Linked DNA regions of Homo sapiens. The protein of the gene in region 1 purifies or fractionates together with the protein of each later gene. This does not show direct contact. Each region holds a gene or a part of one and is shown in the gene's direction. Other genes may lie near its edges.

Region 1 (12,652 bases):
GAAAATATTTGAGTATTGACTGTTCTACTGGGCTGACAAGAAGCCTTTAAGATTTTTCTTTTTTTCCTGTTGTTTTTCCCCGCCCTCTCCTCTCTTCCCTCCACCTCCCTCTTTGCTACCAAGTGCACTGCTGCCCGCTCACGCTTGCCCCTTTCCTCCCTCTGCTCATCCAAAAAAATTTTTTTTAACTGCAGTCCTAGCAACAAGGGTTTAAAAGAAAAGAAAAAAAGGAAAACTGTCCCTGGGTTGGCCTTTCTTGCTCTTTGCACAGCATCTTGGAAGAAACAGTTGCACGGAGAACAACGTCCTGGTGTTGATTTTGCCTCTAATTAGCTTTGTGACCTTGAAATATGCTTGCTCTCTCTATATCTGTTTTCTCATCTGCAAAGTGAGAGATTTAGCCTTAAAATGAGGGACTTAACTCTAAATTCCCTTCCAGTTCTCTCATTGTAGGGCCCTGGGCTGGTTTGATGAGAATTGTTAAGCATGGTGTCTTTAATATAGTAAGCAGAATTTTTGAATATAATTGAAAACAGCTTTCAGACTTCCCTGTGCATAACACATGGTAGGTGCTTAAGAAATGAAAACATGATTATGTTGAGGGGTTAAGATCCAGGTCTTTTTACTTGTCTTTTTGAGTGTCATTGGTTTTGAAAGACATGGTTCTCACACTCTTCTCTTGTGAGAGGGGTCACGCTCCATTGCCCAGAATGGATCTTAGCTCACTGCGGCCTTGAACTCTTAAGCTTAGGTGATCTTCCCACCCCAGCTTCCTGAGTAGCTGGGACTGCAAATGTGCACCACTATGCCTGACTAATTTTTTTGCTTTTAACTTTTCTGTAGAGTCAGGGTCTTACTGTGTTGCCCTGGCTGGTCTCAAATTCCTGGGCCTCAAGAGATCCTCCCACCTTGGCTCCCCAAAGTGCTGGGATTACAGGCATAAGTCACCATGCACCTGGCCTCACACTCAAACCTTAAGATACAGAAACATATTCTGGAGGTTGGGATGGTAAATTGCTTCAAGACATGTGAGAGTATGGGGAATTGATGGTCATTTGTGTACACAAATCCTTCCCTCTTGCTAGGTAAGCACCTCATAGCCTGTGCTTACCTGCCCCACTAACTGCTCTTGCTCTTCCTTGCACTTGGATCATCATCAGCAAACATTAAGTATGGGCATTCTGCTAAGGCAGTATAGAATACTATTATTATGGAATAGTGTATATGGCACCATTGTGTTATTGAAAGAACCCGGATGTGGGGATCATAAGATTTCAGCTTTGAAGTATTTCTGCTACTTGCTAACAGTATGAAGATTGGCAAGTCACTTAACCTTTCTTCATTTGGAATTTTGGAATCTCTGGCACCTAGATCACAGGGTTTTGGGAAGAACCAAGTAAGACAGTACACATTAATGATCTCCATTACCTGTAGTGTCCAGTACAGATGTGTGATGGTGGAGGAGTAAATCAAGAATCCTACTGTCAGAGAGCACTCAGAATAGCCAAATATAGGAGATGGGGTAATTGAATCTATTTAAGGAAGTATATGGTATATTCGCTCAAGTGTGTACTTGTTACGGAAGTTCAAATGAGAGAAATAGAGTGAACCCTGCGAGCTTATTGATAAGAGTAAGAGCCTCGGCCGGGCGCAGTGGCTCACACCTGTAAACCCAGCACTTTGAGAGGCCAAGGCAGGCGGATCACCTGAGGTCGGAAGTTCAAGACCAGCCAGACCAAGATGGAGAAACCCCATCTCTACTAAAAATACAAAATTAGCGAAGTGTGGTGGTGCATGCCTGTAATCCCACCTACTCGGGAGGCTGAGGCAGGAGAATCGCTTGAACCCGGGAGGTGGAGGTTGCAGTGAGCCGAGATCACGCCATTGCAGTCCAGCCTGGGCAACAAGAGGGAAACTCTGTCTCAAAAAAAAAAAAAAAAAAAGAGTAAGAGCCTGAAGGAAAGGCCTCATTCCTGAAAGTGGAACTGGCACCTTATTTGGGGGGAGAAAAGAAAGACATGCCAGGTAAAAAAGTCTCCTTGAGTAAAGTTACACAGATGTGATGGTGTTTTATGTTTCTCAGGTATTGAGTTGACTAGAAGGCTCTCTAAAGGAACTGTAGTGACAAGTAGATAGCATCTGATTAGGGAGGCCGTGGATTGCTTGAAGTAGAGGAAAGCTGTTGAAGGGTTTTGAGACTGTGTAAAGTGGTTTTTAGGAAAACTATTCAGATGGTTTGGAGAGACAGAAATTAGAAGACTTCTTAATAAGGCCGTATACACAGTAGTGTATAATATATAATAAAAAGAGACAAATTTGAGTTCTAGTGCCGCATGTTATTAGGTTGGTGCAAAAGTAATTGCTGTTTTTGCCATTGAAAGTAATGGCAAAAACCACGATAACTTTTGCACCTACCTAATAAAAGCCACATGACCTTGGATAAGTTGTGTGATATTACTGAATTTAAATTTCCTTATGTAAATATTGTGGACATTCATACATATTATAGGCTTGTTGTAAGGATCAAATTGTATAGTGCTGGTAAATGTTCTTTGGGTTTTTTAGTTTGGTTTCCTCTGCCCTTTTTATTTTATTTTTATTTTTATTTTTGGTAGAGACAAGGTCTCACTGTGTTGCCCAGACTAATCGTGAACTCCTGGCCTCAAGTGATCTGCCCACCTCAGCCTCCCAAAGTACTGGAATTACAGGCATGAGCCACCGCACCCAGCTCTGTTCCCTGTCCTTTGGAATCTACTAGAAGTAAATGTTCTTTGTAAAGGGCTGTCTGTGGTAAAAAATAGAATGACAAGGTGATGAGAACCCCAACATGAGTAGCAGAAATAGATAAAAGGTCTCACAAAAGAGTGCTTGGAAGATTTAACCAATAAGTGAGGGACAGAAGAGAATAGTCAAGAGCTGCTTGAGTGCCTTTTCTTGGAAAACTTAGTTTCAGCCTTACATTGAACTGTTCCCTCCCTGAATTCCTCTAGCACTTACACTGCACATGGGAATTAAGCTGTCACTTAATATGACATACTGTCTTGTATTATTTCACCAATTTGTATTTGCCCGTTTTCCTGTGAGTGCTTCTCTGTAGTGATCAACACAAGATAAGTACTTTTAGCATTGAATTTCGCAGAGAAAAAACTTGAGATCTGCCACCTCAGTCTTCAGAAACAGCTTTAGAGGATGGTGCCTCTAATTGTTTGAAGACTGAGGGTACTGTGGGAGAGAACTTGGGGAAAAAAATGTTATTCTCAGTGGAGCAGGATCTGAATGAATAGAGAGGCTTTTGCTGTGTGGGAATGAGAAGCTATTACCTTTAATATAATTTTTTTTTTTTTTTGAGACAGAGTCTCGATTTGTCGCAATCTCCACTCACTGCAACCCCCGCCTCCCAGGTTCAAACAATTCTCCTGCCTCAGTCTCCCGAGTAGCTGGGATTACAGGCATGTGCCTCCATACCCGGCTAATTTTTGTATATTTAGTAGAGACAGGGTTTCACCATGTTGGCCAGGCTGGTCTCAAACTCCTGACCTCAGGTGATCCAACGGCCTCGGCCTCCCAAAGTGCGGGGTTTACAAGCGTGCGCCACCACACCCAGCCTAATATAATTTATTTAATTTGATGTGTCTTGATTTGGGCGGGGAGGGTTTTTATTTTATTTCTGCAGCTGTAGTTTCACTTGCCATAAAGAAGTGTAATAAAGAGATGCAAATATGCTCCTAGTTTTCCCTAAGCAGATGTGAATTTCTACTCTTATGAAACTGACTTTAAGAACACAGCAATTCTTGTTTCCTGATCTTAAAAATAAGTATGCAAATATAATCTTTCCGCCTCCATCACAGAATAACTTGACTTAGATCATTGCAGTATGTTATTTTGCCCCAAATACATCAAAGCATTTTCTTCTGCCTGGCAGTTATAAAGAAAAGCTGCTTGCTTAATTTGTTTTGGCTATTAAAGTTGATATGTGGTGTTAAACCATGCTTTCCAGAAGCTATTATCTAGACCCTTTTAGCCTTATACCTGGATTTCTGTCTCCTGGCTGGCCTGTCAGCCTGATCTTAAAGCACAGCTTTAATCTGTTTACATCAGACTCCTTTGAGAATTAGTTAAAATTAACAGATTTTTGGACCTTTTTTTAGGCCTGAATATCTGCATTTTTCTTCACATGTCTCTATTACCTCTGCATTTTAACAGTTACCTCCAGGTTGAGAACTACTGGCTTAAATGATTTTTTAAAGTCTCTTCTGGTTCTGACATTTTAAGGTTTTTGTTTTGTTTTTAAAAGCTATTCTGCTTAATAGTGGTTTCTTTAAAATGTTTATAATGAAGAGATCCTGAAACTCATATGATACTTCAGCCTCATTTTGTAGACAAGGACACAAGCAAAGCAACTTGCCCAAGACCACACAGTGAATTAGTAACACTTACAGAACCTGGCTCCCCCAGTGCTTAATCCAGTGCTCTTTCTTTACTCAGCACATTGCTTCCCATACCAGAGTGTGCCTTGTGCTATCTAATGTGCTAGCTAACGTAGTAGTGGGATGAGCATCTGTTGTGAGGTGGAAGACCTAGGCTGTGGCCTTGGCTTTGTCACCCACCAACCATATGTCCTTAGGTATCTCCTCTTTTACTCTACTGGAAGATATCTTAGCTTGTCAGACTTCCAGGTGATATGCTTGTGCCCTGTTACCTAGCTCTGACAAAGAAGATGAACGGTTTTATAACATTACTATAATTGTGTGTGTGTGTTTAATGAAACAAGGTGCTGGCCTTTTAATACTGTTGCAAACTGATCTTTATTAGCGTCTCAAAACTCATTATTTTTTATTTCCTCAAAATAAAAAGTATGTGTGTGTCAAAGGCCACTATCAAGAAAGTGAAAAAAGACAATCTACAGAATGAGAGAAAACATTTTCAAATCATATATCTGATAAGGGTCTAGCATCTAGACTATATAAAGAATTTTACAACTCAGTAATAAAAAGACAGCAACCTAGTTTTTAAAAGGGCAAAAGATGTAAATAGACATTTCTCCATAGAAGACGTACGAATGGCCCATAGCACATGGAAAGATGCGCAACATCATCAGTCATTAGAGAAATGCAAAGTAAAACCACAATGAGAAACCACTTCACGTCCACTAAGATTGCTATAATAAAGGGGGAAAAAAAAGGAAAATAACCTGTTTTGGTGAGAATATGGAGAAATCAGAATCTTCATATATCGCTAACAGGGATGTAAAATGTGGTGGCACTCTTGGAAACAGTTTGACAGTTCCTCAGAAAATTCAACGTAAAGTTAACCATATGACCCAACAATTCCACTCCTAGGTGTATACCCAAGAGAACTGAAAATGTGTGTCCACAGGAAAACTTGGCACACAAATGTTCATAACACAGTTATCATAATGGCCTAAAGGTAGAAACAGTCTGTCAGCTGATGAATGGATAAATGCAATGTGATATATCTATACAATGGAATATAATTTGACCGTTAGAATAAAGTATTGATACATACTACAATATGGATGAATCCTGAAAATGCGCTAAGTGAAAGAAACCGATCACAAAAGGCCATATATAGTATGACTGCATTTGTATATCCATAGAGACAGAAAGTAGATTGTTGGCTGCCCGGGGATAGGGGACAGGAATAAGATGTGACTGCTAATGGGTATGGAGTTTCTTTTTGAGGGTATGCATATATTCTAGAATTAGATAGTGGTGATGGTTGCATAACCTTGTGAGTATACTAAAAACCACTGAATTGGCATTATTTTTAAATAGTGAATTTTATAGTGTGTGAACTATATCGCAATTTTAGAAACTTATTTTTGTCTTTCCTGGAGTAACCCTTAAAGTTTCAAATTATTATTTCTTTAAACTATATGTCATGTAACACAGTGGTATCACAGACACTGATTACTTTAATACTATTACTTTAATTACTAATTAAAATATATATATATATATATATATATATATATATATATCTGCCTGCCTAGGTACCTTTTTCAGCTGTTGCTAGCACCATTTCTCTGCTCTGATCTCCATCTTATCAAATTTCAATAGTAGTTTTTTATATTACTTAGCCTTTCAGTAGCATTTGACTTATTGATCACTTCTTTTTTCTTGAAATACTTTCTTTACTTGGCTTCTAGGACACCACTTGCCCCCAGCTTTCCTCCTACGTCAACTAGTCTTTGTTGTCTTCATTGTTCTTTGGTCTTCTTCCTGACCTGTGTAAATATTGCCAGTCCCTGAGCTTATGAGCTTATTACCCCTGGCCCTCTCCTCTGTCTACCCTCATCCCAAGGTGATACCCAATGTCATGACTTAAATAACATGTAGAAGTTGCTGACTTCTACATTTATATTCTCAACCTGGACCTTTCCTATAAGTCCCAGACTTTTCTGTCCAACCGCCTACTTGTCATCTCCACTTAAATGTCTAAAACATGTATCAGGCATCAATAGCCAGAGCCAATCTCTTGATTTCCGCTTACCCCTCAAAGTGCTTCTCTCCCAGTCTTCTTCATTTCAGGTAGATACCTCCATTCATCTAATTTATTCAAACAAAAACCTGAGAGTTACCCTTGATTCTTCTCTTTGCTTTGTACTCCACAGCCATCTCATTGTCGTATTTTCCTGGCTGTACATCCAGAATCTGACCACTCCTACCTAGAGAGCTGTAGTAGCCCTTTCAACTGGTCTTCCAGCTTCCGTGCTTGGCTCCGTTACATTTTGTTCTCCACACAGCAGCCAGACTGATGTTTTAAAACATAGATCACTCACTCTCTTGCTGAATCTCTCCAGTAACTTCCCATCTCAGTTAGCTAAACTCCAAATCCCTAATTGTGGCCTATTTTATAGCCCCTGCATGTTCTTGATCCTGCTTGTTTCTGTCATCCTCATCTGTCAGTTTCTGCTTGAGTCATTATACTCTGGAAACCCTGGCTTTTCTGCTGTTCCTCAAACACGTTAAGCTTGGGGGATTTTGGTGTACTGTTTTCACTGGGACACTCCAGATTTTCTCATGGGTTACTCCTTTATTCAACTCTGCTCAGATGTTAACTATTTTCCCTCACTATTTTTTAGTCTTTTTAAAAACTCTATTGCATTTTTCTGTATAATCTTTTTTAGAGCCTGGAATTATATGCGTATTTGTTTACTTTTTATCTTCCATACAAGAAGAAGCTCTTTGAGTGCAGAATTTGTCTTGTTTATGACTATATCCCTAGTGGCTAGAACAGTGCTTGGCACATAGCAAGCAGCCATTCAATATTAATTTAAAGAAAATAAAGAGTGTAATTGCCATAAAGGTTGTGTTTAAAAATATTATTTTTTTCTTTTAAAAGAATGTCCAACACTGGAATGAATTGCTATTGAGAGGCTTGGCAGTTTCCTTAAAAAGAAAAAGAAACCCAGAAAAGTCATATAACAGTTAATATTTTTCCAGGCAGTAGGAGATGGATTTCAGATGAAACGGCTGTATGGTCCTCTCCCTGAATTTGCACTCAGCTGCATTTTTCAGAACTGATTGCATGTAATTCTTAAATGGAGCACGTGATCTGCCACCTTTCTAGAATAAGGACTCATCGCACATCTGTATCAATGTAGTACATTCCTAGCCAGTCTTCGTGCCTTAATTCAGGTCTTCCTTGGCAGCATCCCTCTCTCTTCCAACCCTCCCCAGTCAGCTTTGCTGCAGATTGATATCCCTGAGGAAATAGGTAACATTTTATCCAAAATCTTTTTTGCAGATCCTTGAACTTGTAGTGTGCCCTTGCCCCTCTATGTCTACTTCTTACCATTTAGCACTTAGCATAGTTTATAATTCATTGTAAGTATAGGATTTTCCTTAACTAAATTGTAAAGACCATTTTTTTTGTATATCTGATTTCTTGTCTACCCATTGCAAAGGTAAGAAATTCATACTGGATGATTATGCCAACAATTCAGTCAGACTTTAGAAGATGTTAGTTGCTAGTAGTGAAAGGATTGTTGACTACATTTCAGTTTGCTGGTAGAAAAAAATACTTCGTTGTTGGAGCATTACTGATTAATATGCTGAATCAAGTTGTTTTAACTTTAAGCTCTTTTCAGCCTTAGATCTCACACTTACTGGGTTCAGTGGTGGGATGTTTAAGTCATGGATCCAGTGATCTGGCCCTCAAAGAGCTTCAGTCATGTAGGCTTCTCTATTCATGGGCTGGGTTGATGTAGAAGCAGCCCCGTCACTGCTAAATGCAGTTTGTGGTGGAGTAGAGAAGGCAGTGTAAAACCTAAGAATCAGTTTCTCTGGGGTTGTCACTAATGTGTGTGCTCATAATTTAATTAACACATGGTAATTTCCTAACTTCTAACTCCAGTGATGAATGCAGTCAGTAATAAGCACTGTTAAGCTAGTAATTTTCTTTGCAGTGTATCTTGGCCATTTTTATAAAAAATAGATTGAAATTGAAGATTCAGTGTGTTGCTAAGAGCATAATCTCTTTGAGATACCATGTTTTTGCTGAATTGGGATCTAAATTAGATGACAGTGCACATTCTTAAGATAGACATCATTTTCTTCCCAAACTGAACATTTTCCTTTCTTGCTAAATATGTGTGTGTGGGGGGGATATAGGCACTATATATTTCCAACTGAAATTGTAATCTCAGCTTCTGAGTTTGCCATCAGTTTTTATTATCTCCTTATTTTAGTTTAGAACTCCACATATACAAATGGGTATTTATCCTTTTTCCTCCTGTATTCTTCTTCTTGGAAAATGACATGATGGCTCCAACAAGTCATCCAAGCCCTAATTCTAGTAGGTGGTCATCTCTGTCTCTTCTCTTTCATGTTCCTTATAACTAGTCTGTTACTAAGTCCTGCCAATTCTACCTCAGAATACTCCCTTTCAGTCCCCCTACTGCTGCTCTGTTGAGCATTGAGGCTCTGCACTTACATCAGGCCCCATCTGCATCTCTATGTCCAGTGTTACTCCCCTCCAGATCATCTGCCAGGTTGCCACTAAAATGACTTAAAAAAAAAACGTAAATTTGATTGTTATTCCCATGCTTAAAATACTCTCCATTGCCTGCTTCAGAATAAAGTTCAAGTTCTTTAGCCTAATAACTAGGAAATGGTTTCTCTCGGATGCCTCATCTCCTACTACTTTCCCCCTTTGCAGCTTCTGTCTACTTTCTAAACTGGGATAAAGGAGAGAAAAAGTTTATTTTTCTTAAAGCCATGCTCAGTTCTGTCTAAATCAGAACAGGGTCACCATTGACACCACTCTCACCCTTGGTAATTCTTCATCTCTCCAGTGTGAATTGAGGAATCCTTTGAGTCTTATTATCAAGCCAGGGAACTTTATGAAGCAATCCACTCAGGTCTTTTATATCACTGCATAACTTCTGTTTTCACTGTGATTAAAATAAGATAATTGAAGGTGTTCATGTGTCATACTCAAAACAATTTTGTTTTGCTGGACATATCCTAATGACCAAGGATTTTGTCCTTTTGTTTTTTGAGATGGATTCTCACTCTATTGTCCAGGCTGGAGTGCAGTGGCACAATCACGGCTCACTGCAGCCTATACCTCCTGAGCTCAAGCCATCTTCCTGCCTCTGTCTCCCAAGTAGCTGGGACTTTAGGTGGGCACCACCACACCTGGCTAATTTTTTAAATTACATTTTTTTGTAGATACGGAGGAGTCTTGCTATGTTGCCCAGGCTGATCTCAGACTCCTGAACTCAAGCGATCCTTCCACCTTGGCCTCCCAAAGTGCTGAAGTTATAAACATGTTGCCACTGTGCCTGGCTTATTTTGTCTCTTTTTTTGATCCCACCCTATCCCTTTGAGTGTGGTGAGATGCATGGGAACAGAAGGCTGTATTCCCTCAAATGAGTTAATTTGGAAAATGCCTTCCTGTACTGACTACATATCCTTCAGACCTGAGTTGTGTTTAATATCCTTCCTAAGCACTTATGGAGTTCCTGATGCCATACCTTCAGTGAAGTGTCTTTGTAGAATTTTTTATTATTCAAATGTGCAGTGGAGAAACGTAACTGAAATGATTCTTCATAATGTTCTATTAAAGCTATCAAATGCCTGTTTTCTTTGAACTGGTTAGCCAGCCAGCTCTGGCATCAGGTGTGTTAGTCTGACAAAAGTTGTCTTTATCTTGGCCGGGTGTGGTGGCACTTTGGGAGGCTGAGGTACGTGGATCACTTGAGGCCAGGAGTTCGAGACTAGCCTGGCCAACATGGTGAAACCCCATCTCTATTAAAAAATACAAAAATTAGCTGACTGTGATGACACTTGTCTGTAATCCCAGCTACTCGGGAGGCTGAGGCATGAGAATTGCTTGAACCCAGGAGGCGGAGGTTACAGTGAGCTGAGATCGCGCCACTGCGCTCAGCCTGGGTGACAGAGTAAGACTCTGTCTCAAAAAAAAGTTGTCTTTATCTCTTCAGTGGGTGGTGTAGGGGAGTAATTTCTTTAAGATAGTACTTTTTGAGCTCTGTTTTCAGCCAAATTGCAGTTGGTTTTACATTGGGGGGGGAGGTTCAACATTTTTGATACCCTGTGAGTTTTGTGGTCCTATTCAAGATTAACATCTTTTTTTTTTTTTTAGGTTTTTAAAATGTTATTACTAGAGCTTGTTAGGAATCAAGATACAATGTATAGCTGTCACTTCAGGGATCTCTTTGTTTCCTGTTCTTTGTGTTTTTGATGGCTAATAATTCCTTTCCTTGCACTTCATGGGAAAGCAGTGTAGAATAATGAGAGAGCATGGGTTTTGAGTCCTGGCTTTACCACTTTCTGCCTTTCACCTTTGGCAGGTTTTTTAAACCCTTAGTGTTATCTGTAAAAGGAGGATTTTAACTGTTCTTACCTTGTAGAGTTATTGTGGAAATTAAGTGAGATAGTGTATATAAAATACTTAGCACATCCGTAGCACATGTTAGGCATTCAGGAAATGGTAGCTATGATTATACCTTCTGTCTGCCCTCCATCCCTTAAAGAAATTCTGTGAATAAGAACCAAGTGAGATCATTTTGACCATGTTTACATTTGCTAAATTTAAACTGGAGAGTAACATTTTAGAGATCTTTTTCTTCCCTTTTTTTCTTTATAAGGATTTAGACATTAAAAAAAAAAAAAAGCTATTGAGAGTATATTGTGTTCCAGGCTCTGAGAATACAAAAGTGTATAGTCCCTGTGACCCAGTGAGGGAGACAATACATACAGTCAGGTAACCATGATGCAGTGTATTATATAGTTTTATATCATTAATAGCAACAGCAATAGCTAATTTTTATGAAGTACTTGCTAGGTACCAGGCACTGTGCACTGTGCTATGTTTTATAATTACACTATTTACTTCTCATACCAACCTGTGAAATAGATACTTTCACCATCTTAATTTTACAATTTAGCAAACTAATAAGGCTTTAGAGAGGTTAAATTATTTGCCCAGTGCCTTCCAGTATTAAGTGGAAAAGTGAGGATTAAAATAAAGTAGCCTGACTCCATTCTCCCTTGGATAATAAGGATTCACCTTATTGGGTAAGGAAAAAAAGCATTTGCCTACATACATTTGTATTTAGTCTAAATCCAGTCAGCTTGTTTTTTGTTGTTGTTGTTGTTTGTTTGTTTGTTTGTTTGTTTTTTGAGATGGAGTCTTCCTCTGTTCACCCAGGCTAGAGTGCAATGGCACCATCTCGGCTCACTGCAACCTCTGCCTCCTGGATTCAAGTGATCTCTTGCCTCAGCCTCCCAAGTAGCTGGGATTACTTAGCCTGGCTAAGTTTTGTACTTTTAGTAGAGATGGGGTTTCACAATGTTGGCCAGGCTGGTCTCGGACTCCTAACCTCAAATGATCCATCTGCCTCAGCCTCCCAAAGTGCTGGGATTATAGGTGTGAGCCACTGCACCTGACCAGAACCAATCAGCTTGTGATTTGAAGTACAGTACACCTTTAAGAATAAGGCCACAATCTGCTTTGGGATTGAGTTCAGGGATTAAGGCAAATAAAAATAAGTTTATATCACTGAAGAAGAGACAGTTTTATAATGAGCCATGTATTTGTAATTTAGCCCTAAAGAATTTTGTTGGCCTGTCATTTACTATTTGTATGGCACTTAACATCTTTGAACTCTAGTTTTCTAATCTGAAGGACATTGGTTTCTGGATTGAGGGTCTGCTTAGTGCTGCAATAAAAAGATGAGTGGCAATAGCAGTTTTACAGTGGGTGAAAATTGACCTGTGTAAGGGATATCATCTTGAAATTTTAGATACTGGCAACATAAAGAACTTTTTCTAGATTTCCAGAAGGAAAGGTGTTCAACATAAATCACATCATTTATACAAACAGTTGAGGCACAGTGAGCCATTCTTATCACTGAGGGAATGTATTTATATCAGTGTAGGGATTTGTTTTATCAGCCAGCTTGTCAGATACCAGCCAAGGGCCAACCTTGCAAACAAGCCTTGCTAAAGATGGCAGTCTTGGACCCAGGTTCACTTATTTCTGCACACTGCCCTTCTTTTTAATTTATCCTGTGAGGTCCCACATAAAAGAAACTAATTTTTGCTTTCTCTTTTTATTATTACAAAAGGAAAGCAATTTGCAATTAGTGTTGAGGAAGACA
Region 2 (12,652 bases), on another chromosome or scaffold:
CGATTGTTGTGAAGATTAATCTTAATTCTGGCATGAAATAAGTATAAAATGGAAGCTCATCACACTGTTATTAAATTAATTTACTTTTTTCCTATGGATATAGATCTAGGAATCTCAAGATCTCAGCCCAAGGACCATTACCCATTTCTATCAACGACCAAGCAGGCCACGGGCTCTGATTTATATCCTCAGCCCCCTATTCCACTCACCTCCCCCTTTCTTAATCAAAGAGCACCACGGGATGGTGCCCCCAAGGAAGCCCTGGGAGGCTGAAAAGGAGGGAGCCTGAAACCAGAGACTAACAGTGGCAAATCGCGGGTGGGATTTGGCAGTTCAGAAAAGGAGGTACCATGCCAAGAGTGGGGGTAGCGGGGTGAAGTAGCGGGGTGAAGTGGGGGGCTGGTTCGGGACAGGCCACAAACCAGAAACTGCGAGAAGGCGCCAGAAGGGACCTGTTGAGATGGCGCAGGGTTGGGGGACCCAAGCGCGCGGGGAGGGGTGAACTAAGAATGGAGTCACGCGGAGGTGCTGCGAGGGACTGGGGCAAAGGCAGGTGATTGGGCGAGGGAGTCCTGGTTGCCACGGCAGCGACCAGAGGAGAAGGCTTCGAGGAGAGGAGGAGGCTGCTGTCAGTCCTCCTCCTGGAGGTCTCCCGCATCCCTCCTAGAGCCTCTGCTGACGTGTCAGTCGGAAACTGCTCAGACCTTCGCGGGCGCCGCCCCTCTGCGCTTGTCTTCCCACATGCCCCCGGCGCTCCGCCTGGTCCCTGCCCGCGTCCCTGCCCCCGTCCCTGCCCCCGTCCCTGCCCCCGTCCCCGCCCCGTCCCCGCCCCCGCCCCCGCCCCCGTCCCCGCCCCCGTCCCCGCCCCGTCCCCGCCCCAGCCCCCGCCCCAGCCCCCCCGTCCCCGCCCCGTCCCCGCCCCCGTCCCGCCCCTCTGCGCCCGCCCCGGCCTCCTCCTCCGCGTCACCGGCTCCCCGAGGTGACCACAACATGGCTGCGGCGCCTGGGCTGCTCGTCTGGCTGCTCGTGCTCCGGCTGCCCTGGCGGGTGCCGGGCCAGCTGGACCCCAGCACTGGCCGGCGGTTCTCGGAGCACAAACTCTGCGCGGACGACGAATGCAGCAGTGAGTGCGCTGGAGGGGCGGCTGGCCTCGGGGCGGCTGGCCTTGGGGTCTCCGCCGGCCCCGGGGGTCTCCGCGGCGGCGCCGCCTGGGCTGTGCGGGGACGGGAGTTCCGCAGCCCCTGGCCGGCCCGGGGGTCGCAGGCGGGATGGGCTGAACGCGGGGGTGGGCGCGCTCCGGGTCCCTGTGTCTGCCTTCTCCCGCTCTGCCTGCGCCCGGCCCCTCGGGCCTGACCATGGGGGCTGCACCTCCCACTTGTTGCCAGCGTTTTATTTTTCCTCTGCTGAGGCGGGGGGTTGCTTGCGGTGGTCCCCGGCTTCCCCAATAGTGGCTCACAGCGTCCCCTTCCCACCCCCCCAATCCGCCTGGGCTCGGAGGGTAGATGTGGTTGCGCGCCGCGCGTCTGGGCTCCCCACGCCGCAACCAAAGCTTTCCTGCCCGCGCTGCGGGGACCTCGGTGGGTGCATCACCCCGGCAGATGCGCTAAGGGCTCGGTGGGCGTTTTCCCAGTGGCAGGTTGATGGTGGGGTTTGTTTGGAAAGGCTCCCTGGCGCTGCTCCTTTGCCCTTCTGCTTTATTGGGATTTGGGCTTGTACCGCCTTTTGAACAGGAATTGGGAGTTTAGGTTTGGGACGAGTCTGGAGTCCAAGCACTCATTGTATTCCGAGGTCTCTGCCCCGACTTTGATCAATCCTGTCGTTTCTGTGCTTGGAAGCCGCCTTGCAGACTGCTAGGCAGGACTGCAGGAAGACCAAAATCTTTCGCTCTGCAGAGACCGAGGATCTGCACCGGCCACCTGGGACCGGCAGCCTCCTCTTCTGTGCGCAGGAAGCGGAATTGCTCTCCAGTCTGGGATTGGAGGTGGGCGGTGGAGAGGGCACAGATCTTCAGGCTCAGATGAAGAAGGTTATTACAGGAATGACAGTAAATACTCCAAGGGTCTCATAAGCCAAGCTTGGTTTAGCCTTAGCCGCTTGCGTGTTGAAACCTCTTCCCTCTATGTTCGCCGGACCAGGATCATTTTAGGGCCTCCCAGACCGTCTCAACCTTGTAACTTACTGATAGCCACTGCAGAAACGGTTTTTCATACACTGTTAAGCAATGCCTATAGAAACGTATTCATTTTAAGAAGGCCAAGAACTCTATGGTTTAGCTATTTATATTCAAATTGATGTTATCAAAACCGAATTTCATAATATGAACTGTTTGTATCTCTACAACACTAATCAAGAAAAGAGATCTCTAATGAGTGTGAAGCCATTCCTAGAGATAACCCTGTGGTTGATGTAAATAAACACTACAAAAGCGGTACAACTGCCATGATTTTTCCCTTTAGTTTTCTTGGGTCAAAGCCACGCTGTTACCCATTTGCCGTTGGCAATGGCAAGATAGTTGGTATTCTTTGCTTGCAAGCATTGCCCTGCCTGGGTTCCTCAAAACAGGTTACCTGGAGAATCATCACATCACTGATGCTTCTTCAGTACTGAGGCATGATGTTAGAAGAGCTCACGGTTGTAACATAACTTGAGAAATGGTACGTGTTCAGAGGAAACCAAATACAATAGGCATCAACAGGAGCAAGGTCTAGATGGGTCTGTGTTGTGTTGTAGAAAGTGTTTAGTAATGTGAGTATGTACGGTGCCCTTGTGTGGTTTTCAAATAGCTGTTCCACAGGGTGCATTTTGTTGGCATCTCAAATATTATTATAAATCCTCTATGATCTATTGTAAGGGGGAGCAAAAGAAACATTGCCATTTTCAATTCTGATCTTATTCCCAACCTTAAATTGTCCATCATCTTAAACCTGGCCTCACACTCAATTATATCTGAGCTACAAAGCTGACATGTTGGAAAGTAATCAGAGTTTAGCTTCAAAAAACAAGTAGCCCCTTCCAAATCTATATGCGTGTATAGCCATTTAAAGGCACGTTTTTAATGTATTTTATTGCAAATTGGCTTTTGGAAAAAATCTTATTTCTATTCGTCCTTCTTTGTCTCTGCTATTTAGATGTATTTATTGTCCATTTCATCTTACATGGGAAACTGTGTATGTGGTCAACAAAAATAAAAGTACTGCTTCAGCCAGTTTCTAGATCAAGCGTGATTGAATTACTGACCTATTCTCATAGTTTTGCTTAGTCCCAGCCAAATGAGATGTCGACTTTTGATTTTGTTTATAGAAAAATATACATAAGGGTATTCTTTCCTTTGTTTTGAAACTTAATTTTGGATACAGTCAACATTATTTACTTTCAGAAAATATTGCCTTGTGATGTAATTGAATCTATAGTAGGGTGTGATAGATATCTTTTCCCATTAATTTATCCAGACACTGTACTAAGGGAACAACTTGGCTGCAAATGAAATTGACAGTGTTTACTGCTACATAGTACTGGTTACAGTCACTTGAAGATAGACCCTTTTAGTGGTTAGTTCAAGTTAATTGACCTCTTGGGGGTTCCTGGGTACTCTAGTTCCCTATTACCCGTTCATGTAGCCATGCTTAAGTTAATCATCATCTGGGCTTGAATTTACCCATTTGCAAAAGGAAGCTTTTTATGAATATGAAACAGAAAAGATTGAGGACTAGAAGGTTAGAGAGGGAATCGAGAGTTTCACTTGGGTGAGAAAAGCCATGTGTGGTAGTTGGCACATTGCTTTTTGTTTCTCAGTATTATCCATAGAGAAAAATAGAGAAGGTTTTCCTTTCCCTTGTCTGCTTGCAGAAGGTATGATTTATAGCAGTAAAGCTCAAAGGATTTGAGATACTTTGAGCATATGAAAGAAATTCCAGAGAGTACTGGAAAAACTTGGTTGTTGTTTATAGTGGGATTCTTATATTTCCTGATAAATCAATATGCACTGTGAACACTGAATCCTGATATCTGGCTATTTTTTTTCTCTCTCTTTATATACAGTGTTAATGTACCGCGGTGAGGCTCTTGAAGATTTCACAGGCCCGGATTGTCGTTTTGTGAATTTTAAAAAAGGTGATCCTGTATATGTTTACTATAAACTGGCAAGAGGATGGCCTGAAGTTTGGGCTGGAAGTGTAAGTAAAATATCGACATACTTTATTTGCTTAATTTTTATTGGCTTCTTTAGCACTGTAGAGTTAAATGACTGCATTTTCTTGGGACCTTTGATGGAGTTAACTTGTCCTCTCTGCCTGACTGTGAAAAAAGATGGCCCTGTGTCCCCAGCAGGCCTTGGGTCTGCACAGAGTAGGGGCTCAGCAGAGCCTTCTGAAATAGAACTGATTCTGGCAAGTTCCCCTCAGGGTCAACCTCTAGGATGCTGCATACGTATTAGAGGTTGAAATGGTAAGAGCTGAAAAATACTTCATTGCTTTAAAAAGGAAGTATTCATAGGAATTAGACTTACTCCTGTAAACTATATGTGAGAGAGTGTTTCAGGCATGTAAGCTTAAAGTTGATTTTATGTGTATTTCTTTGTTTATATTATTATTTATGAAAAAGTGGCAGTCTTGGGAACAGTTCCCTAATCATCTGTGCTATTATAAGTCTGTAAAAAAGCAAAATGTTGTTTCTCGTGTGCTTTCTTGTTTGTTTGTTTTTTTTTTTTTGAGGCGGAGTCTTGCTCTGTCGCCCAGGCTGGAGTGCCGTGGCGCGATCTCGGCTCACTGCAAGCTCCGCCTCCCGGGTTCACGCCATTCTCCTGCCTCAGCCTCCCGAGTAGCTGGGGCTGCAGGTGCCTGCCACCACACGGCTAATTTTTTGTATTTTTTTAGTAGAGACGGGGTTTCACTGTGTTAGCTAGGTCTCGATCTCCTGACCTTGTGATCCACCCACCTTGACCTCCCAAAGTGCTGGGATTACAGGCGTGAGCCACCGCAACCAGCCTCTTGTTTGTATTTTTGTTTGCAGCCTTGGGGTCATCCTTGTCCTGCTTTTCAGACACTTGTGTCTGGAGGTTACCCCAGGGGATTGATTCCCAGCTGATTTTATGGGTACCCTGCTATCAGACCTGGCAATCAATGACTGCATCATGCTTTGGTATTTTTAATGAGGAGATTCACTGGGAGTGACCTGATTGAGAGGCCTGTCTTATGAGTTATTGTCCTTTCCTTTTTAGAAAGCGTGATATGTGGACTGTGTCTTTACTTCAAGTAGTAAGGGTCCTCGATATCTTTAGGATTGTCCCAACTTAGAGAAATACCCATCCCGACTATGAAAGTTTTCACTGTCAGTAAAACACCAAACAAACAAAGAGAAAATAAGGCTTGAGAAATCCCCTTGGGGAAAATAGACTGATTTTGTTGGCATTCCAGGTTCCTAGGGAGTAATCTTGGGAAACAACAACTGGTCAGGTTCAGCTCTCCTATTTAGAGAGCATCCCAAGTGACTTGCTCCATACCAAAACAAATCTATTCTATTTCCTTCAAGTCTACCTAATGAGATTTGTTGATAATCTTTACTCTTGGAAATGTTTTTCCATGTACCTAGGCTGCGTTTTTTCATAGAAAAGTTAAGTTTTTTTTTCCACTCCTCATCTTTGAGCATTTGGATGAATGAACTTGACTTAACATTTTCCTCCCACTGCAGTTTTGCTCATTCACGTCTTCATCTCTGGATGTCCTGTCAGTCTTTCTGGGTCACACCTCTCATCCTGCCTTCTTAAGGAACGCTGCCTTCAGCACCCAGCCAGAAGGGATCTTTGCTGCCTGATGATTGTTTAGGTGGCACTTTGTTTGCACTGTTCATGTGGCATTTGCTTTACTGCTTTGTATGGCAGTTAATTTGTGTACTGTCTTAGCTCACGTAAAGTGAAAGACTCTTTAATGGAAAGGCTCATGCCTTATCTGTCTTCTTTTTCAGTATTTCCTGACGAGGCAGTGGCATTTATTTATATTTGTCCTGATATTATCTTATGCAGAATTTGTTCTCTTAAGGCGATACTCTACTTTCCCTCCTACCCCCCGCCCAAATGAAATCAACAGTACCTTGGCAGAAATGATGTATGAAAGCAAAATTAGACATAAAGATTTTTTCTTGTCATGTGAGCCTATGTTTTTTTTTTTGTTTTTTTTTTGGTCAAATCATAAGAAATGAGATGCCACCTGTGGTCCCAACTGACAAAGATTAAGGAAGGTAAATGTATTGTATTTCCCTTTCCCTATATACCTCTACCTCTGATTTGTTTCCTTTTTCCAGGTTCTCCCTTAAAATAGTCTCCCCTCTAATTTGATGAACCTTATTCTTAGGAAATTAAAAACTCTGTCTTCAGCTTTCAAAATGATTCTCATTTGTTTCTTAGTTTTCATTCTGCAGTCTTTTTTGGTTTCTTAGCATTTTAGACTTGATCTGCCAATAACACAGAGTTTAATTGCCCTTATCTAATCTCCATGGCAGTATTTTACTACTAATACTGGCTTTCAGATAGTTTTCAGATCAAGAGCACTCATGAATGGAGATGTTTTATGAATTAGTGATAAGATGGCCTTTTTTTCTTTTTGTGCATTTGATTTACATGCCAGCCTCCTCCTTTAATGATTGGGAGATCTACCTCTCCTTTCAGACAGTAGCTAGTAAAAGACTGTGTGTTTCTCAAGAGGGCACATTTTACTAGTGCTGAAAATGAATGGAATTATTTTCTGTAGAGATTTTGGTTTGCATGAAATGAAAGCTTGGTGGGCAGATTAGTGTGTATTACACTGTAATTTTGTTTTGTCTCCAGTTACCTGTAATATCGTTTTGGAAAATGGCAGTATAGCACATCATATGTGCAAATACAGTTCATCCTTGGGCAACACAGGTTTGAACTGTGTGGGTCCACTTATAATGCAGATTTCTTTCAATAAATATATTGTAAAATTTTGTGGAGGTTTGCATTAATTTGTTAAAAACTCTCAGACCGCATAGCCTAGAAATACTGAAAAAATTAAGAAAAAGGTATGTTATTGACATGTAAACCATATGTAGATCCTAGTGTATTTTATTCTTTACTACCATAAAACATACACAAATCTGTATAAAAAGTTACAGTTTATCAAAACGTACACACACAAACTCAGATCTTACATGGCACCTTTTGCAGTCGAGAGAAATATAAACAAACGTAAAGATAAAATATTAAATCATAATTGCATAAATTAATTGTGCTACCTACTGTACTATAATAGTTCGTAGCCACCTCCTCTTGCTATTCTAGTGAGCTCAAGTATTGTGAGTATCCACTTAAAATGCCATGCGACGCTAATCATTTCCACGTGAGCAGTTCATCTCTCCAGTAAATTGTACAGTGAGTAAAAAGTGATCTCTTGTGGTTCTCATGTATTTTTTGTGTTTAGTGCAATACTGTAAACCTTGAATAACACTCTGGGACCCATACAAAGTGTCACTAGTGATGTTGGAAGTGGTCTCAAATAGCGGAGAAAAGTAATGACATTACAAGAAAAAGTTGATTGCTTGATATGTGCTGTAGATTGAGGTTTGCAGCTCTATCGTTCATATTTCTCATACAGAATTTGATTGATATGTGTCCCTTTTGCCCATTCTTTTGTGTAGGTTGGACGCACTTTTGGATATTTTCCAAAAGATTTAATCCAGGTAGTTCATGAATATACCAAAGAAGAGCTACAAGTTCCAACAGATGTAAGTTGTGGATTTCTGTCTTGTTCTCAGTTATAAGTTGGCTTATAAGTGACTACCTAGAAAAAAAGAAAAATTTCAAAAGAATTTAAATGAGATTTTATCATAATCTGATAGTTATCTAATATATGGAAATAGATGTTCTTATATAAGGCTATGTACTCTTTTTTTTTTTTGAGTCGGAGTCTCGCTCTGTCACCCAGGCTGGAGTGGAGTGGCGTGATCTCGGCTCACTGCACGCTCTGCTTCCTGGGTTCACGCCATTCTCCTGCCTCAGCCTCCCAAGTAGCTGGGACTATAGGCGCCCACCACCACGCCTGGCTAATTTTTTGTATTTTTAGTAGAGATGGGGTTTCATTGTGTTAGGATGGTCTCGATCTCCTGACCTCATGATCCGCCCGCCTCAGCCTCCCAAAGTGCTGGGATTACATGCGTGAGCCACTGCGCCCGGCCAAGGCCGTGTACTCTTATACAAGGCTTTTCTTTGCTGCTTTATATGTGAAAAATTAAGAGTTCAGTAGTTTTATATTTACTTATTAATGTTAGAAGGCAAAAAATTTCATTTCACAAGCAAAAGGAGAAATTTGAAAACTACTTATTGGATAGCTGTTAGACATTTTAAGGATATAGAAATCAGGTTAAATTAATTAAGCTCTAATTTTATACTGAGCCAGAAATGCAAACTTACAAAGGTTTTCTTATTATTGACTCTGTAGTGATTTAAGCGATTATAGTTATAGATTTGGAAAAGGGAACCAGAGAGTTTCAGGTGAGGTCCAGTCTCATATCTGTAAGGCGCTAACTACACATTCTGTAGAGCATTTATCTATAGTGCACAATGGCTTCGTGACTAGAAGGATTTTGTGTTCTAGAATCTGCATTCCATCTGATTATTATTTTTTTGAGACAGAGTCTCTCTCTGCCGCCCAGGCTGGAGTGCAGTGGTGCGATACCAGCTCACTGCAGCCTCCGCCTCCCAGGTTCAAGCAATTCTCCTGCCTCAGCCTCTGGAGTAGCTGGGATTACAGGCGCCTGCCACCACACCCAGCCAATTTTTTTGTGTTTTTAGTAGGAACGAGGTTTCACCGTGTTGGCCAGGCTGGTCTCAAACTCCTGACCTCAAGTGATCCATCTGCCTTGGCCTTCCAAAGTGCTAGGATTACAGGCTGCCTTTCATATATATATATAAAAAACACCATGCCCAGCCCCCCATCTGATTGTTTTGTGAGTTTTAGAATTTATAGTAATTGATGTCTGCTTTCATTCAAAAGTCTTTGAGTAGCTCTTTGGAGTTGCTGCAGAGCGTGCAAGCTGCTGGGCTAGGGCAGTTCTTAGAAGAGATTGGCAGAGTGAAGTCACAGAGCTATTGCTATGCTTAAAATTTCTCGACGCTCTCAGGGGTTATATAGTCAATCGTATTGCCTGTTTGGCTTCACTCCTGATGAAGAGACTGCCCGGGATTTGAGTGTGAGACAGCAATTCATTGGTCACAGAGACCTGACCTGTATACTAATTGTAGTTCCCACTGCATGATTCCCTTAATATTAAAAAAATTGGCTCAGAAGTGTGCATGATGGAAAGAGGGAAGTCATTCATCTCCAGTACACAGGACAGTTCTCACCAGAAGATTGTGAATGTTTAGTTAGGGGAAGAAAGTTATCTTTGTTGGTTTTTTAACTTTTCCATCATTTTATGGCTCCTTGTATGTCAATTTGCTTACTGGTGGAGGAAGGGAAAAATACAGATTTACTTGACAGTCCTGAAAGCAGATCTTAGTGACTGGCTAGAATCCTTATTTGGAGTTAGGTACCTACCTTACTGAATCTTGTTTTCAAGTTGTTCTTGTGGCAGTATGAAAATGGGGAGCCTCCTTTACACCATTCTTTGTTCTCTTACATTTTTATATCTCATGCACCTGTATCTCAGTAAGTTCCTTCTGAAGCTGATTTCTTTCCCAGTCCAAGGAAAATATGAGCCCCAAATCCATGTAGACTGAGAGCCTGACAGCCAGGTGATTCTGCCTGTTTCTGACTGGGTGAGCAGAGAAGTATGACATAGAGGGCACAATGTAGAGAAGCTGATGGTCTTTCAGCTCCTCCTGGATGGGTTATAAGGTGAATTCCCAGAACATCAGGCATAGATGATGGGAGTTGGGGAACCCAATAAATGACACCTTACTTTTCCCCACCTGTGCTCAAAACAAAATTGAGAGACCCAGGAGTTGGGCAAATAGGAGATCAAAATGACCCCATTATTTACTGATAAAGCTGTTTGGAGTATGCAGAAATAATGGGCTTTCTAACATTGCGGTCTAAACTAAGATGGACTTATCCAGTCACAGACAGAGCTATCCAATAGGGGTCTCCCCAGGTGGGACTGTCCCTGTAAAACGGACAGCATGGAGGAACAGAATATGTGTTTCCTCTCCAGCAGGTCCCAAACAGAAAACAGGATTGGGACTGAGCAAACTCACCAGCCACATGAATCATTCTTCCCCTGGGGAAGAGAGAATGAAGGGAAGCCAGGAGTATTACTCAGATGGGAAAGTGGGTTCCAGCCTCCTATCCACCCACTGCCCAAGAACAGTCAGTGCCCAGTGTTGACGCAAAAGCTCCTCTAGAGCCAAACGTGAATTCGAGATTATCTCAATCATTAACGTGGATAAGACTTTGCTCTGGTGACACTTGGCTATTGACAGACTAATGTTTTTCTTTTTCTTACAGGAGACGGATTTTGTTTGTTTTGATGGAGGAAGAGATGATTTTCATAATTATAATGTAGAAGAACTTTTAGGGTTTTTGGAACTGTACAATTCTGCAGCTACAGATTCTGAGAAAGCTGTAGAAAAAACTTTACAGGATATGGAAAAAAACCCTGAATTATCTAAGGAAAGGGAACCTGAACCTGAACCAGTAGAAGCCAACTCAGAGGAAAGTGATAGTGTATTCTCAGAAAACACTGAGGATCTTCAGGAACAGTTTACAACTCAGAAGCACCACTCCCATGCAAACAGCCAAGCAAATCATGCTCAGGGAGAGCAGGCTTCATTTGAATCTTTTGAAGAAATGCTGCAAGATAAACTAAAAGTGCCAGAAAGTGAAAACAACAAAACCAGCAATAGTTCTCAGGTCTCAAATGAACAGGATAAGATTGATGCCTATAAACTTTTGAAAAAAGAAATGACTCTAGACTTGAAAACCAAATTTGGCTCAACAGCTGATGCACTTGTATCTGATGATGAGACAACCAGACTCGTTACTTCATTAGAAGATGATTTTGATGAGGAATTGGATACTGAGTATTATGCAGTTGGAAAGGAAGATGAGGAGAACCAAGAAGACTTTGATGAGTTGCCATTACTTACCTTTACAGATGGGGAAGATATGAAAACTCCAGCAAAGTCTGGCGTTGAGAAATATCCAACAGATAAAGAGCAGAATTCAAATGAAGAGGACAAGGTTCAGCTAACTGTGCCCCCTGGCATCAAAAATGATGATAAAAATATACTAACAACCTGGGGGGACACTATCTTCTCTATTGTCACAGGAGGTGAAGAAACAAGAGATACGATGGATTTAGAGAGCTCTAGTTCAGAGGAAGAAAAAGAAGATGATGATGATGCATTAGTCCCAGATAGCAAACAGGGGAAACCACAGTCAGCAACAGATTATAGTGACCCTGACAATGTAGATGATGGTCTTTTTATTGTAGACATTCCTAAAACAAATAATGACAAAGAAGTAAACGCAGAACATCACATTAAAGGAAAAGGGAGGGGAGTTCAGGAATCCAAGAGGGGCCTGGTACAAGATAAGACAGAATTAGAGGATGAAAATCAAGAAGGCATGACTGTGCACAGTTCTGTTCACAGCAATAACCTCAACTCTATGCCAGCTGCTGAAAAGGGTAAAGACACATTAAAATCAGCTTATGATGATACAGAAAATGACCTAAAAGGAGCAGCTATTCATATCTCAAAAGGAATGCTCCACGAAGAAAAGCCTGGAGAGCAGATTTTGGAAGGTGGCTCAGAGAGTGAATCTGCACAGAAAGCTGCAGGGAATCAAATGAATGACAGAAAGATTCAACAGGAATCCCTGGGTAGTGCACCACTCATGGGAGATGACCACCCTAACGCATCCAGAGACAGTGTGGAGGGAGACGCTTTGGTAAATGGGGCCAAACTGCACACGCTTTCAGTGGAGCATCAACGTGAGGAATTGAAAGAGGAATTAGTTCTTAAAACTCAAAACCAACCTAGATTCTCCTCTCCAGATGAGATTGATTTGCCCAGAGAACTGGAAGACGAGGTTCCCATTCTGGGAAGAAATCTTCCCTGGCAACAAGAAAGAGATGTGGCTGCCACAGCCAGTAAGCAAATGAGTGAGAAGATAAGGCTCTCTGAGGGAGAAGCCAAAGAGGACTCCTTGGATGAAGAGTTTTTTCATCACAAGGCAATGCAGGGCACAGAGGTAGGACAGACAGACCAAACTGACAGCACAGGAGGACCAGCTTTCCTTTCTAAAGTAGAAGAGGATGATTATCCCTCTGAAGAACTACTAGAGGATGAAAACGCTATAAATGCAAAACGGTCTAAAGAAAAAAACCCTGGGAATCAGGGCAGGCAGTTTGATGTTAATCTGCAAGTCCCTGACAGAGCAGTTTTAGGGACCATTCATCCAGATCCAGAAATTGAAGAAAGCAAGCAAGAAACTAGTATGATTTTGGATAGCGAAAAAACAAGTGAGACTGCTGCCAAAGGGGTCAACACAGGAGGCAGGGAACCAAATACAATGGTGGAAAAAGAACGCCCTCTGGCAGATAAGAAAGCACAGAGACCATTTGAACGAAGTGACTTTTCTGACAGCATAAAAATTCAGACTCCAGAATTAGGTGAAGTGTTTCAGAATAAAGATTCTGA

The links.
Region 2: the proteins of SPCS2 (region 1) and MIA3 purify together in Homo sapiens (affinity purification with mass spectrometry; 2 studies listed by BioGRID and IntAct, with this or other methods). This does not show direct contact.

What each region holds. Positions count from the first base shown.
Region 1 is NC_000011.10:74,949,887-74,962,538, forward strand, and holds part of SPCS2 (signal peptidase complex subunit 2), read left to right. Parts: intron 1-12,652. UniProt on the Homo sapiens protein: Component of the signal peptidase complex (SPC) which catalyzes the cleavage of N-terminal signal sequences from nascent proteins as they are translocated into the lumen of the endoplasmic reticulum.
Region 2 is NC_000001.11:222,617,121-222,629,772, forward strand, and holds the start of MIA3 (transport and Golgi organization protein 1 homolog isoform 1 precursor), read left to right. Parts: upstream 1-976; 5' UTR 977-990; coding exon 991-1,123; intron 1,124-4,038; coding exon 4,039-4,172; intron 4,173-6,186; exon of another isoform or gene 6,187-6,231; intron 6,232-7,647; coding exon 7,648-7,734; intron 7,735-10,454; coding exon 10,455-12,652.